Linked DNA regions of Homo sapiens. The protein of the gene in region 1 interacts with the protein of each later gene in a pairwise test. Each region holds a gene or a part of one and is shown on either strand. Other genes may lie near its edges.

Evidence for each region. Proteins that work in one complex are often made in the same cells at the same time.
Region 2: the proteins of PALMD (region 1) and ABLIM3 interact in binary tests that used the Homo sapiens proteins (3 or more experiments, as listed by UniProt).

What each region holds. Positions count from the first base shown.
Region 1 is NC_000001.11:99,684,106-99,691,134, forward strand, and holds part of PALMD (palmdelphin), read left to right. Parts: intron 1-2,570; coding exon 2,571-2,685; intron 2,686-2,824; coding exon 2,825-2,858; intron 2,859-2,970; coding exon 2,971-3,084; intron 3,085-4,669; coding exon 4,670-5,767; intron 5,768-7,029.
Region 2 is NC_000005.10:149,242,471-149,249,499, reverse strand, and holds part of ABLIM3 (actin-binding LIM protein 3), read right to left. Parts: exon of another isoform or gene 7,016-7,029; intron 7,010-7,015; coding exon 6,962-7,009; intron 4,620-6,961; coding exon 4,485-4,619; intron 3,019-4,484; coding exon 2,954-3,018; intron 1,719-2,953; coding exon 1,571-1,718; intron 1-1,570. UniProt on the Homo sapiens protein: May act as scaffold protein. May stimulate ABRA activity and ABRA-dependent SRF transcriptional activity.

The DNA.
Region 1 (7,029 bases):
ATATGTATGTACATACATCTGCAATATATACATATTTGTATTACACATTTATTAATGCAGGGATTGACAAACTATGGCCCAGGACCAAATCTAGCCCTGGCCTGATTTTGTACAGACACAAGCTAAAAATGGTTTTTATATTATTAAAAGGCTGTAAAAGAAAAAGGGGAAAAAAGATGAATAAGAAACAGAAAGCATATGTGGACTGCAAAACCTAAAATATTTGGCATCCGGCCCCTTATAGAAAAAGGTTGCCAGCCCCTGTATTGTCTCCCACTAGAACATAAACTCCTTGAGCTCAGGGACTTTGTTTTGGTCACTGTAAGATCCCCAGCACATAGAAGAGTGCCTGGTTCAAAGTAGATGCTAAGTAAATATTTTTAAAAGAATGAATGAATAAAGACAATGAGTTTTATTGTTTGTTTGTTTGTTTGTTAGCCCAGATCTCACTCTGTTGCCCAGGCTGGAGTGCAATGGTATGATCATGGCTCACTGCAAGCTCGACCACTCGGGCTCAAACAATCCTCCCACCTCAGCCTCCCATGTAGCTGAGACCACAGGTGTATGCTCAGCTAATTTTTTTTAATATTTGTAGAGACTGAGGTCTCACTATGTTGTCCAGGCTCATCTCTAACTCCTAGGCTCAAGCAATCTTCCTGCCTCAGCTTCCCAAAGTGCTGGATTATAGGCATGAGCCACTTCTCTCAGCCCAACACTGAGTCTTAGTGAGGTCAGGTGACTTGTCTAAGGTCACACAGGAAGCTGGCAGATGAACCAGGTTTCAAACCCAGGTCCACCTGATTCCACAGCTAGGCCCTGATGTGCAAGAGCTGCTTGAAGCAATGATTTGAACCTTCTTGTTTTCTACCAAAAGGCTTTCCTTTGTAGACTGTCTCTAACAGGCAAATTAGGTAAGCACCCTGTGGGACAGGGGATGAAAAAAGAAAGACATACAGTATGTTGCAGAAAACTTTTAAAAATTATATCATAACATATTTACATCTGATATCAACCATATTCAATGTACTTTCATATACATCATCTCTTAGTGTCACCACATATCTGTCTGTATATGGTAATGAGCGTAATCTGTAATTATGCTCATTACACACATTACAAAACAGAGTTTCAGAGAGGTTAGGGGAACTGGCTTTCACAAGAAATGAGTAGCAGAGACAGAATTGAATCCAGATTTATCACTTTTAGTGCAGAGCTTTCCCCTTTACCAAATTGGACCAACATATATCCCCACAGCTCTGCTGAAGGGTAAAAGTGCTGCCATGGATGTGGAGGAATTTTAATAAAATGGCAGTCACAGTTCAGTCACTTCTAAGAAACCAGGGGCTACTCCATTTCACTTAGAGGTCTGTGGCATACAAGAAAACCTCCTCAGTTATAAACGGCAATCTACCAATGGCCAGAGGCAGCAGCAAAGTAAGAACTTTGAAACTGAAGCAATGAGCAAGAGAGCTGTCAAGCTGACCACATCTTGGGCTTTTACTGGTGTGACAATAGTGCAGCATTTTTGAGCTGCCAGGCCCATGACCATCTTCAAGAAGGAAGCCAAGAAAACTGACAGTTCTCTTAGCTGACACGAATATCCACAGCTGTCACCTCCTGGACCAGCTGCTGAATCTAATCAGCCATCCTCTGAGGCAGCTGACTTTAGAGCCTTAGTGTATTTGGCTGAGAAACCATGTGTGTTACGTGGCTGCCAAGGGCCAGCCTTCTGCGTGATTGCCAGTGTCTCTATGTTTTTATAGAGGAGAGGTCACGATGCTGCCCCCTGGAGTTCATTTGAATCTGACACGCAGCTGTACACTGGCCAAGATACCAGCTCAGAATGCTTGCAACAGTCTAGTTTCAAATGTCTGTCTCTTTGTTGCTGTAAGTTCCTTATGCTGTGTCAGGCCATGTGTGCCCTACCCCCCGCCCAGAAAATGTAGCCTCTATAAACAGCAGCAGTTGAAGCTACTGTACTATATTTGGTCCATTTCTGCATCTCTTCACCCTCCTCACTATAATATGGCCCAACTCTTAGGAAACTGAAATTAAATCAAAGTGTCATTTTCAATGGTAGAATATGCAAGAATTTTAAGTACTAAATGACTATGATTATTAAATCAGTTTAATAATTATAATGTTTTCTTCAAATAATTTATATGATGACTTGGATATGAAAACCTGATGAACTACATAATAACTACAAATGTACCATTCCTTTCGGTACAACTTTAAACTTATGTCTCTGTATTTTAAAAATCTCTTTTATTTGGAAATAACATTAGTAATTGCAATGAAGAACATGGAGCAAAGGTCAAATGCTTTACCTAATATATTCCTTTGTCAAAAAAAGAAAACTTGAAAATCGTTCAAAGTCGGGCATTAGGTATCTTCCATATATTAAGTATCATGCTTAGTGTGATGCTAAGTGTGACATTATATTCTTAGAAAGTGTCTGGCTACTTACATGCATATTCCAAGGAAACTTTATATATGGGGAAGACATATTTGAGAACTCCGCATTTGTACTGTGTTAAGCAATAAAAAGTATACCTTTTTGTTGTCAGGCTTGAGAAAGAGATCCAAGATCTTGAAAAAGCTGAACTGCAAATCTCAACGAAGGAAGAGGCCATTTTAAAGAAACTAAAGTCAATTGAGCGGACAACAGAAGACATTATAAGAGTGAGCATTAACCAATTTTAAAACTGTAATTCTCTCTCAAAATGAATCCACAAATACTATATAATTTTTCAAAGCATATCCACATTTAGATTCTATTTTTTAAACTGTATTAATCATGGAGAATTCTTTTTTCTTACAGTCTGTGAAAGTGGAAAGAGAAGAAAGAGCAGAAGGTATGTTTTTGAATAACTTATTTTATGTTAAACTAAGTTTTTTTGGTAATTTGAAATTGTTCCCATTGTAAATATATTCTAAATGTATTTTGAATTCATATTAATTTTACAGAGTCAATTGAGGACATCTATGCTAATATCCCTGACCTTCCAAAGTCCTACATACCTTCTAGGTTAAGGAAGGAGATAAATGAAGAAAAAGAAGATGATGAACAAAATAGGAAAGGTATATGAGAAATCTGTGTTGAAGGGCATGTTCTTAATTTCAGATTTTACAGTGTCAAATATTCACAACTTGCTATGACATATTATTCTTCCAGGTTAAGCAATGGTTCACTTTACAAAGTTCTGTGAGTTATGTGAGTCACCGCATAGGTGAGGATAATGAGGGTATAATAATAGCATTTATTCCATGCATTTTATTCCCTAACAAACCAGACAGGGATAAGGAAGATAGAGACCCAAAGGAGACAAGAAGCTCTTAAAAGCATAGATTCCCTGGTCAAAAATATTTCTCCTGACATATTCCATCCAATAGAACCTCTTTGGGGGTTACAAAGATCTTTTTTGAAAATGAAAATATTCCTTTGGGAAGCTTAGGCCTTATTTACCTCCATGGGAAATTGAGTTACATAAAACTGATGCTTCAAAGCTTCTAGAAAAATGAAGGTTTGCATTAGAGCAGAGAGGAAAACTTTGAATTTTACAGTGGAAGGAAAAGCTACTCTTTATTTGCAGATGGTAGTCATTTATTCATTCAACAAATATTTAGAGAATAGATACTGTGTGCCAGGTTCAGTTAGGCACATAGTAGGTATTCACTAAATATATCATGGTAGGGAGTGCAATACAGAGAATAAAGCAGAGAAGCTGGACAGGGAGAGTGCAGATGAGGGGTGTTGCAGTTTTTCTTGGGTAGTCAAGGAAGGCCAAGAACCACCAGGCTATAGAGGAGGTAAGAAATACAAAATGGGTTCAGAAAGAAAGGTGGGAGGACACAACAAAAGCAAGCTGTAATTTTGCACAGAATTCTATTCGCTTTACCTTTCCTATTGAAATTCCAGCCATAGGGATCTTACTTAGGTCATGAAGCAAATCTCAGCTTCCCCAGTTCTCTCCAGTCCATTTGTCTCAGTGCAGCTGATATTGCTGTACTTTTTAGCCCTTCCTCTACTTGAAAATGGGAGTGAAAATGAAAAGAAACATAAGGCAGAAAGAGAAGTGTGTGATTGTAGCCTTCTCCCTCCCGTTTCCATCCCAGTTCTACATTTAAACAGCCTCTCCACTGTGAAAACTTTAGAACACACCTCTATAATTTCACCAGGCTGCTGGCCTGTACAACAAGGATGTAACTTTATAAAATATACTGTACTAGGCACTTTGCCCACTGTGATGCACAGTCCAACATATTCTTCTTGACTAAAGAAGAGATTGATTCTGCCCATTGAGAAATGCAAAAGAAAGTATATCCATCTTGCTGAATTTATTAATAGGAAAGAGGATATCTTTTTCGGTTCCCCATTGAAATTCTTTCCTATTTGGAACCATCAGCTTATCTTCTCTAATCAACTTCTCTTCTTCAACCCTTTCCATTTTTCAGTACAATTCCCTACACCATTACATAAAAACCCGTGTTATTCCAGTTGGTCATGATATCATTAATGAGTAAAATCAGAAATTTAAAAAATAGACAACATCTCACATACAAGAACATGAAGGGTCTACTTAATATAAAAATAAACACAGTGAAAGCAGGTTAGTTTACAAAAGAAAAGTTAACTAAATCAAAGATCAAATTTGTTTCTTAACAGCTTTATATGCCATGGAAATTAAAGTTGAAAAAGACTTGAAGACTGGAGAAAGTACAGTTCTGTCTTCAATACCTCTGCCATCAGATGACTTTAAAGGTACAGGAATAAAAGTTTATGATGATGGGCAAAAGTCAGTGTATGCAGTAAGTTCTAATCACAGTGCAGCATACAATGGCACCGATGGCCTGGCACCAGTTGAAGTAGAGGAACTTCTAAGACAAGCCTCAGAGAGAAACTCTAAATCCCCAACAGAGTATCATGAGCCTGTATATGCCAATCCCTTTTACAGGCCTACAACCCCACAGAGAGAAACGGTGACCCCTGGACCAAACTTTCAAGAAAGGATAAAGATTAAAACTAATGGACTGGGTATTGGTGTAAATGAATCCATACACAATATGGGCAATGGTCTTTCAGAGGAAAGGGGAAACAACTTCAATCACATCAGTCCCATTCCGCCAGTGCCTCATCCCCGATCAGTGATTCAACAAGCAGAAGAGAAGCTTCACACCCCGCAAAAAAGGCTAATGACTCCTTGGGAAGAATCGAATGTCATGCAGGACAAAGATGCACCCTCTCCAAAGCCAAGGCTGAGCCCCAGAGAGACAATATTTGGGAAATCTGAACACCAGAATTCTTCACCCACTTGTCAGGAGGACGAGGAAGATGTCAGATATAATATCGTTCATTCCCTGCCTCCAGACATAAATGATACAGAACCGGTGACAATGATTTTCATGGGGTATCAGCAGGCAGAAGACAGTGAAGAAGATAAGAAGTTTCTGACAGGATATGATGGGATCATCCATGCTGAGCTGGTTGTGATTGATGATGAGGAGGAGGAGGATGAAGGAGAAGCAGAGAAACCGTCCTACCACCCCATAGCTCCCCATAGTCAGGTGTACCAGCCAGCCAAACCAACACCACTTCCTAGAAAAAGATCAGAAGCTAGTCCTCATGAAAACACAAATCATAAATCCCCCCACAAAAATTCCATATCTCTGAAAGAGCAAGAAGAAAGCTTAGGCAGCCCTGTCCACCATTCCCCATTTGATGCTCAGACAACTGGAGATGGGACTGAGGATCCATCCTTAACAGGTAATAAAAATGACAAGGCATGCCACTGCTGTTCAGTCATGTGACCAGCTTCTCTTGTGCTAATGCAGTCTTGCTTTCAGGCTTCTCTGACCACCTCATAAACTAATACGCACTGAGATTTTTTTATTAATGCTGATAGAGATTATTATCACCACAGTAAAGTGATTAAGTCACTTCAAAAGATAAAGAAAGTAAAAATAAATCATTGCCTTATTTGATATTGTATTGAGGAACTTTAATAACTTGAATTTCATCTTCTATCATGGTATGGTGCTGCTTGTGAGTGTATTTGGGTCACTAATATGTTGGATCATCAATAACATATCTTTTTCCACTAGAATCTGATGACTACTTTATTTGTGCCTCACTGTGATTTAAACTTCTTATATAAGTTAACAAATTGCCTTAATTCTGCAAGAAAGTACAAGAAACAAATTTTATTTTCAGAGTATTTTATTACCTTGCTGTATCTTGTTTCTCTATATGTCTATAGTTTCATTAATTTTATTTTCCTAATTTTTCTACATTTTAAAATAGAATGTTAGTTTATTTTATGTTTTCTATAACCTTTAACTTTGCATAGTGTTCCCCAACTTAGCATATTTATCTTTTCTATTTTCTATATATTTGCATTTCTCATTCTTTGCAAAATTTTTATAGCTTTATAGCTAACCAGCTATTTTAGCATTGAGTGGAAAATAACTTTAACACTTTTTTTCTACAAAAGTGATAGCTTCTCAATTTTAGATTTCTTGTTATCACTTAAATACTATATTCTAGTTATCATTTATAAAGAATAAATAAGAACCTAACAAAATCAGTTATAATAGCTGTACTTACCTTGGCTAAAGATGTAAATCAAATTACCCTGACATACAATTTCTGTATGTTTGCTAGGGATAGTAATTTTAAATGTCTCTAATGGAAGGATTCTCATTAAAAAGCAATAAATATTAAGTACTGGCTAACTTCACAAGTCAAACTTGATAATTCTATGGCAGTGTGGTAGTACCTGCACAATTACCTACACAATTCAATAATGTTTCTTCCTCTACAACCCATAAGCCCAATATTAGGTAGCTAATAATACAGTAAAATGAACCTTCTCCCATTATTTTAAGTAGTTAAAGTAGGTATCCCAATGATAAATTTAATTACCTGAAGAATTTCTAAGCTTTTGGAAAGTATACACGTATACAACTTCCTCAATCAGAGTTGAGTGATATGTCTCACAATGGAAAGTTGCAGATACTAAGTTTCTT
Region 2 (7,029 bases), on another chromosome or scaffold:
TTGGAAACAGTGGCCCTCAGTGGTCAGGCAGGAAAACAGGCTCAGCAGTTCATCCTGGCTCTGCCATTAGTAGATTTCTAACTTCAGACAATCTAATTAATCACGCTTTGGTTTTCTCATCTGCAAAATGGGGAGTGATAGTGCCTCCTTTGTAGGATTATTGTGAAGAATATGTGACACAATACAGTAAGATACTTAGCATAGTGCCTGACGCATCTATAACACTCCATAAGACTGGCTTTATCATATTGCCGCCAACACCAACATCTTCAATCTCACTGAGAGTCAAGGTGTAGTATGGGGAAGAGGGAAGAGCTCATGGCCTTGGGGCCACTCCAACTTGGGTCTGATCCTGGCTCAGTCACTTACTGGCTTTTGACTTGGAGCAAGTGGCTTAACCTCAGTTCTCTCATCTATAAAGTGGGTGATAATAATCCCTCTACATTGCAGCTCTACCAGGAGTGTAACATTCCTACAAATGCCTGGCACATAGAAGTGTAATAAATGGTGCATTTTATTATCCATAATGTATTGATCCGAGATGAGATTTCCTGGCAGGACTGCATCTCACAGGAGTAAGAAAAGGAGGAGGCAGACAGAGTGTGTGTGTGTGTGTGTGTGTGTGTGTGTGTGTGTGTGTCCAGGAATAGGAGGAGCTTGCAATGAGATTTTCAAGAAGTATTTGAATAAAGCCCCTGCTTGTATAAGTTCAAATCATGGTAGACTCACTACCTCAGGAGGCCATCCCTTACATCTTTGAGCCATTCCGATGATTATAAGACATCGTTCTTTTTTTTTTTTTTTTTTTTTGAGAGAGAGTCTCGCTCTGTTGCCCAGGCTGGAGTGCAGTGGTGCAATCTCGGCTCACTGCAAGCTCCGCCTCCTGCCTCACGCCATTCTCCTGCCTCAGCCTCCCGAGTAGTTGGGACTACAGGTGCCCACCACCATGCCCAGCTAATTTTCTGTATTTTTAGTAAAGACCGGGTTTCACCATGTTAGCCAGGATGGTCTTGATCTCCTGACCTCATGATCTGCCCGCCTCGGCCTCCTAAAGTGCTGGGATTACAGTCATGAGCCACTGCGCCCAGCCAAGCCATTTTTCTTTATACTGAATCTGACTGGAAGTCAGAGCTTCAGATGCCCCAAAGCAATGGGAGTGACTGCTCAGGGCAGCATGGTCTTACATAGTGCCCCATAGAGCGCCTTTCCAAATCTGTATTCTAGACCTCAATGAAGCTCCCAGAAGGGGCATTGCAGGGTTTGGGGCTAACCTTTGTGGCCAGCCTCTTCTGATTCTTTTGTTAGCCCAGGGGATTGAGACGGGGCTGGCTACATTCCAATAGAACCTAATTTATAAAAGCAGGCAAGGAAGCTGATGAAGTAAGCTCCATTACTGATAAATTGAGTGATCTTGGGCAAGTCACCCACCACAGGGCTGCTGTGAGGAAGAAGAGAGAGGATGCATGGGCTGTGCCTCAAGGGAGCCTGGCTCAGAGCAAACAGCTGACACTGCCAGCTAGTCACAGAGAAAGGTGTCCCCGCCCCGTTGGGCTTCCAGAGCCATGCTTACAGCCATTGAGGGACATCTCATAGCCAGCTGTGTGCAGGGCTTCCCGGCTGCTGGTGGAGCTCCGGGGAGGGGTCCAGGGATCTGCATAGGAGCTCGACCGGGCCTTCATTTCTTCCTTCAGAATCAGCCGGCCAATTCCACTTTGGAGCTGAGGGTCGGGGAAGAGCAAGATAAAGTTAGAAGGAAAACAAAGGACACTGAGATGGAACGGGCTTGGGCAAGGCTGAGGATCACATCCTCCATAGCAGCCTGCTCTCATGTTTGCCTTCCCAGCGTCCCTCCCACCTTGTGGCACCCATGTTTCCTGTTGCAATCTCATCTTGTCTTCCACAAGTTGTCCTGTGGTCTGGGTGGGGGTCTGGTGGTGGGCACAAAAAAGCAAGCCTGGCCAGTGACAGGATCCCATTGTCTTGGCACAGTGATTGATTCAACAATGGGCAGATAGCCACCTTTTTCTTTTTAACTGAGGTGAAAATTACTTAACTTCAAATTAACCATTTTAAAGGAAATGATTCAGTGGCATTCAGTGCATTCACAATGTTGTGGAACTACCACCTCTATCTCGTTTCAAAATACCATTATTTCCCCCAAAGGAGATCCCATATCCATGAAGCACTCACTCCCCATTCCCCTCTCCCCGTGCCCCTGGGAACCAGCAATCTATGTTCTGTCTCTATGGATTTGCCTATTCTGCATATTTCATGGAAATGGAATCACACAATATGCGACCTTGTGTCTGGCTTCTTTTCTTAAGCATAATGTTTTCAAGGTTCATCCACATTGTGGCATGTATCATTACTTCATTTCTTTTCATGGCTGAATAATATTCCACTGTATGGACATACCATATTTTGTCCTATTCATGAGCTGATGGACATTTGGATTATTTCCATATTTTAGCTTTCGTGAATAGTGCTGCCACGGATATGAGTATATATGTATTTGTTTAAGTCCTGTTTTTAATTCTTCTGGGTATATATCTAGGAGTGGAATTGCTGGATCATGTGGTAATTTTATGTTTAATTTTTGAGGAACCACCAAATTGTTTTCCACAGGGGCTGAAACAAGGGTTTCACCAGCAATGAACAAGGGTTGCAAGCACCTGCTTACCATTATGTGAAAATAGCTTGCCTGAGCATGAAGCCAATGCAGAGGCAAGCCCCAGAAGTGAAGAGACAAATTTCCTATGACATTTTTTTGAGCAGTTGGATCTAGTCATACTTTAAGCTAATTCCACCATTTGATTTTTCAGTTATGCAAAGCTATGCTTTTCTTTTTTCTATCATAAGTGGGCTTGAATCTGTTTTTTGTTGCTTGTAAATGAAAAGACCCTCAGTGATATACGCTCTAAGCATCATATTCAGTGCTGTGGTCTCTGCCCACCTTGTGCATGCTGCGGTCAAAATCATCCTCCTCTCCTCCAGACGAGAACCTTCTGGCTCGGGGCACTGTCAAAAGACAGAAAAGATCAGCTCCGGCATGTGCACCCCACTCAGCCTGGCTTAAGGCATTTTTTTTTTAAAAAAGAAAAGCCACTTTTCTTTCTTTTTAATCTTATTTTTCAATGGAAACAGTCTCGTTTAAGCTAAGCCCCACATCAGCTGAAAGTGGTCTCTGCTGCCTTTGTGGTCTCTGAACACTCCTCTCCTGTGGGGATGGATCACTGCCCACTTGGTTATAGTCGTATTTGTGTCTTACCTTCTTTTCTAAATGAAGACTTCTTTGAGAGTAGCGAACGAGTCATCCTTTTATTAAATTTTTAAATTTTTGAGACAGGGGCTCACTCTCACCCAGGCTAGAGTGCAGTGGTGTGATCATGGCTTGTTGCAGCCTCAAGTCCCCAGGCTCAAGGGATCCTCCTGCCTCAGGCTTGCATGTAGCTGGGACTACAGGCATACACTATCATGCCCAGATAATTTTTAAAAATTTTTTTGTAGAGAAGAAGTGCTATGTTGTCCAGGCTGGTCTCAATTTCCTGGGCTCAAGTGATCTTCCCAACTTGGCCTCCCAAAGTGCTGGGATTACGGGCGTGAGCCACTGTGCCCAGCACCAAAGAGTCATCTCTGAGCTTCTGTGAAGCTTTGCTCAGAATGGACATTGAATTAGTAAAGACATTGAATCAGAGTGGATCTTGATGGGGGGAAAAATTTCCCCCCATACTTGAAAGGAACAGCTTGGGTTGTATGATTGGGTGAGGTGGTATCTGAGGACCACTGAGACCCCTTACCAGGAGCCTTCCACCTCCCCACATCCTCTCTTTCTCCATCCTCCCAACCATTTTTTACCCTACAGCCAAAGTGGTCTCTCAAAAGCACAAATGTGATCATGCCACTACTTTCAATGTGATCATGCCACTCACTGTTTAGGATAACAACCAAAATCCTTACCTCAACCCTCAAAACCCTGGGGGACCTCCTCCCTCACCTCTACTGCTTCTCTTCCTCTCTGAGTTCAAGGTTAAGTGGACAGCCTTTTCTTTCCTCCAGTGGAATCCTCTCTCACATCCTGGGTCTTTGCAGAAGTATTTCTACACTCTCTGCTGTGTTACATCCTTGCCACCCTCCTGATGGCAGCTGAGTGGCTGCATTGAGAAACTTTTGTCATCTTCAGGCTGGACAGCAGGCCCCTGCCATCAGCTCTCCTACCTTCTGCGCATCACCTCCCTCTCATGGCTGGGGCCTATGTCTTCTCCACAAGGGCAGGGACCTGGTCTGTTTTGCTCCCCAGTGTATTGCTAGGGTCCATGGCCAGTGTTTAGTACATATTTGTTGAATGAATAAACACCCTTAGTTATAAACCCTCTAAGCACTCTTATTCAGAATGATTGTATAAAGGAGTGGGCAACTGTTCTGAACACCCGTGTCCTTGGCACAGGTGTTAGGGCCCTGGACCCAGGCTCCTATGGGGGTACTACCTTTGGGGGACCCATGGTAGGTCCAGTACTCAGACTCCGAAGCATAGTAGGGGTCTGGCGAGTAGATGGGACTGTACTTGGAGGTCTGGCTGATGTCTTCACTTGTTTTGCTCTTGGTTGCTGTAGACAAATCACCTGCAGAGGACCCAAGGAGAGCACTTCAGGAAGGCAGAGTGACCGGGATGGGACTGTGTACCCTTTTCCTATCTTTACCAGGCTCCAGCCCAGGGGAGTGAGTCCACTTCAAGATCAGGGCTCTCTGTTAGAACTGGGCCATGGAGCATCGGAGCTGGAAAAGCACTGGGGCCAAACCCTCATTTTGCATTTAGTAATTGGAGCACCAGAGAGGGGAAGGGGCTTGCTTAAGACCACATAGCATGTGAGCACCAGAACTGGACCAGATCCCAGCCCAGGGCTCTTTCCAGCACATTCCATGGATTCCCAGGTCTGTTCCAGAATGACCTCTAAGGGTGTGGCTCCTCAAATAAGACTGGACAGGTCCCAGGTGAGCCCCAGCCCTTTAGAAGCCTTCCTAGCCCTTTAGAAGCCTTCCTTGTTATAAATTTGAACTCCATCATTTCTCACAACCTGAGATGCCACATTCTGCTCAGGGACTACATAGCCTGAAGGAAGGAGTGCTAGACAGGGAGTCAGCAAACCTGGGTTCTGGTCCCAGCTCTGCCACTTTACTCAGCTGTAACACTGGGCAGGTCCTACCATCTCTGCCTTAGTTTCCTCATCTGTAAGTGTCAGAATCGGTCTGCTGGCTCAGCTGCCATCCAGCTTCAAGCTTCCACCTGAAGTAAGCCCAGGACAGGGGTGACCAAAAAGACCCACTGCAGTCACAACTACTTACAGAGCAGTGACTTCTCGTGGCCCAAACGTGGGTGACAGGCTGGTAGAGCAGAGAGAGGGGCTGGGGAAGTGTGTGTGGCTGCATGACCATTTCTCATGGTCAGCTACAGGAAGCTTTAGGGACAAGCTCTGTGCTCTGTGGAGCCAGAGTGGCAGAGCGTGGTGGATCAGCTTCAGCCAGCCCTGGGCTATGCAGCCCCCACAACAGCACTTGCTTCCAAAGCTTTCAAATTCTTCTCTTTGACTTGGGTCCTGGGCAGCCCCTCCTGGCTGACTGCATTTAGCTTTTTCCTCCGCCCTCTTTTCCAAGCAACCCACCTCCACCCCAGACTCCTCTTGAGTCTGCTTTAGTGCCACCCCTCAGGGCCCACCTGGAAAATCCCACAAAGTCCTGAGAAGCTTGTGACCTGGGGGCCTTTTCTAGGTATAAAGCCAAACTACCTTTGTCATGTTGGTGTCTTTCTATGAGTACTCAGGGGACATGGCATGTCCTTCACAAGCTGGTACAGACTTGCACATGCTCACAGACTCACCTCGGACCCCCCTGCTCAGCCCCCTCTGGAACCAAGGATGTCTGTATAAAATGTAGAATCTTAGGCACCCAGAGCCGCTGTTTAAACTCGTATTGTCCCCTCCACCAGCTAATTAGTTCAGAACCTGGTGCAGGACTGCTTCGCTCATCTCCAAGCTCCACCGATTCTGGGCCTCCTTTTGTTATCCAGCTAGACCCTTAAGCAAGTGTGGGTGCACAGGGTGGCAGCTGCTCCTCTGCAGCTTCAATGGAAGGGATGTGCTCCTTCAATCGAGGCTTAGTAAGTACTTTTTGCAAAAGTGAACAGGTGGTGTCAGTGATGAATGACTTGGTGGTTCTCATACTAAGTGCAGGGAGGAATCATGGACAAAGCCAGTTATAGTGCAGATTCTTAGTTCACACTCTCAATATTTATAATTAAGGGAGTCTGGGGCAAGGAAGGGGCCAGGGAATCTGCCTTTTAAATGTCTCTCAGGTGCAGATGGTCCATAGATCATTCTTTAAGAAACACTAAATCAATGAATGAATGAAAGAAGGAAGTCACCCTCTGCAACCTTACTCATCTACATCTCCTCTGCAAGTCTCCATCCACTCTCAGGAGACTGTGACTGAGAACAACTTACAGCAGGGGTTCCCAAGTTGGGCTGAGTATCAGAATCACTTGGAGAAACCGTGACACATACAGAATTCGAATTCAGTAAGCCTGGGGTGGGGCCCAGGAATCTGTATGCATCCCCTGTTATTCTAATGAACATTTCAAGTATTAATGCCTTGGAGTGTGACTCTCCCAGGGGCATGTGCGTTTTACAAAGGTTTTACCAATTATGGAACTTAGGATGACAGAGAGCAGGTAAGGGGGAGATTGCAAAGGTGGTGGGAAAGAACTGAGGGGACATGAGGACTTTGTTCTTTTGAAATGATACCAAACTCTGCCCTAATGTCACCCTGGGTGATGGGGCAGTCAACAAGAAGGACCAAGATGCAGCCTTGTGTTTTGTGGCTCCTGGTGGCCTGTGCAGGGCCATCTGCATAGATGGTTAACCTCCCCCCTCTCCTTGTGTGGCCAAGCCCTATCTACCTCTGACCATACCATGCCGTTTGTAGATCGGGGGTTTCCGGTAGATGTTACTGTCTCCAGCTGCCAGACAGACCAGGAAG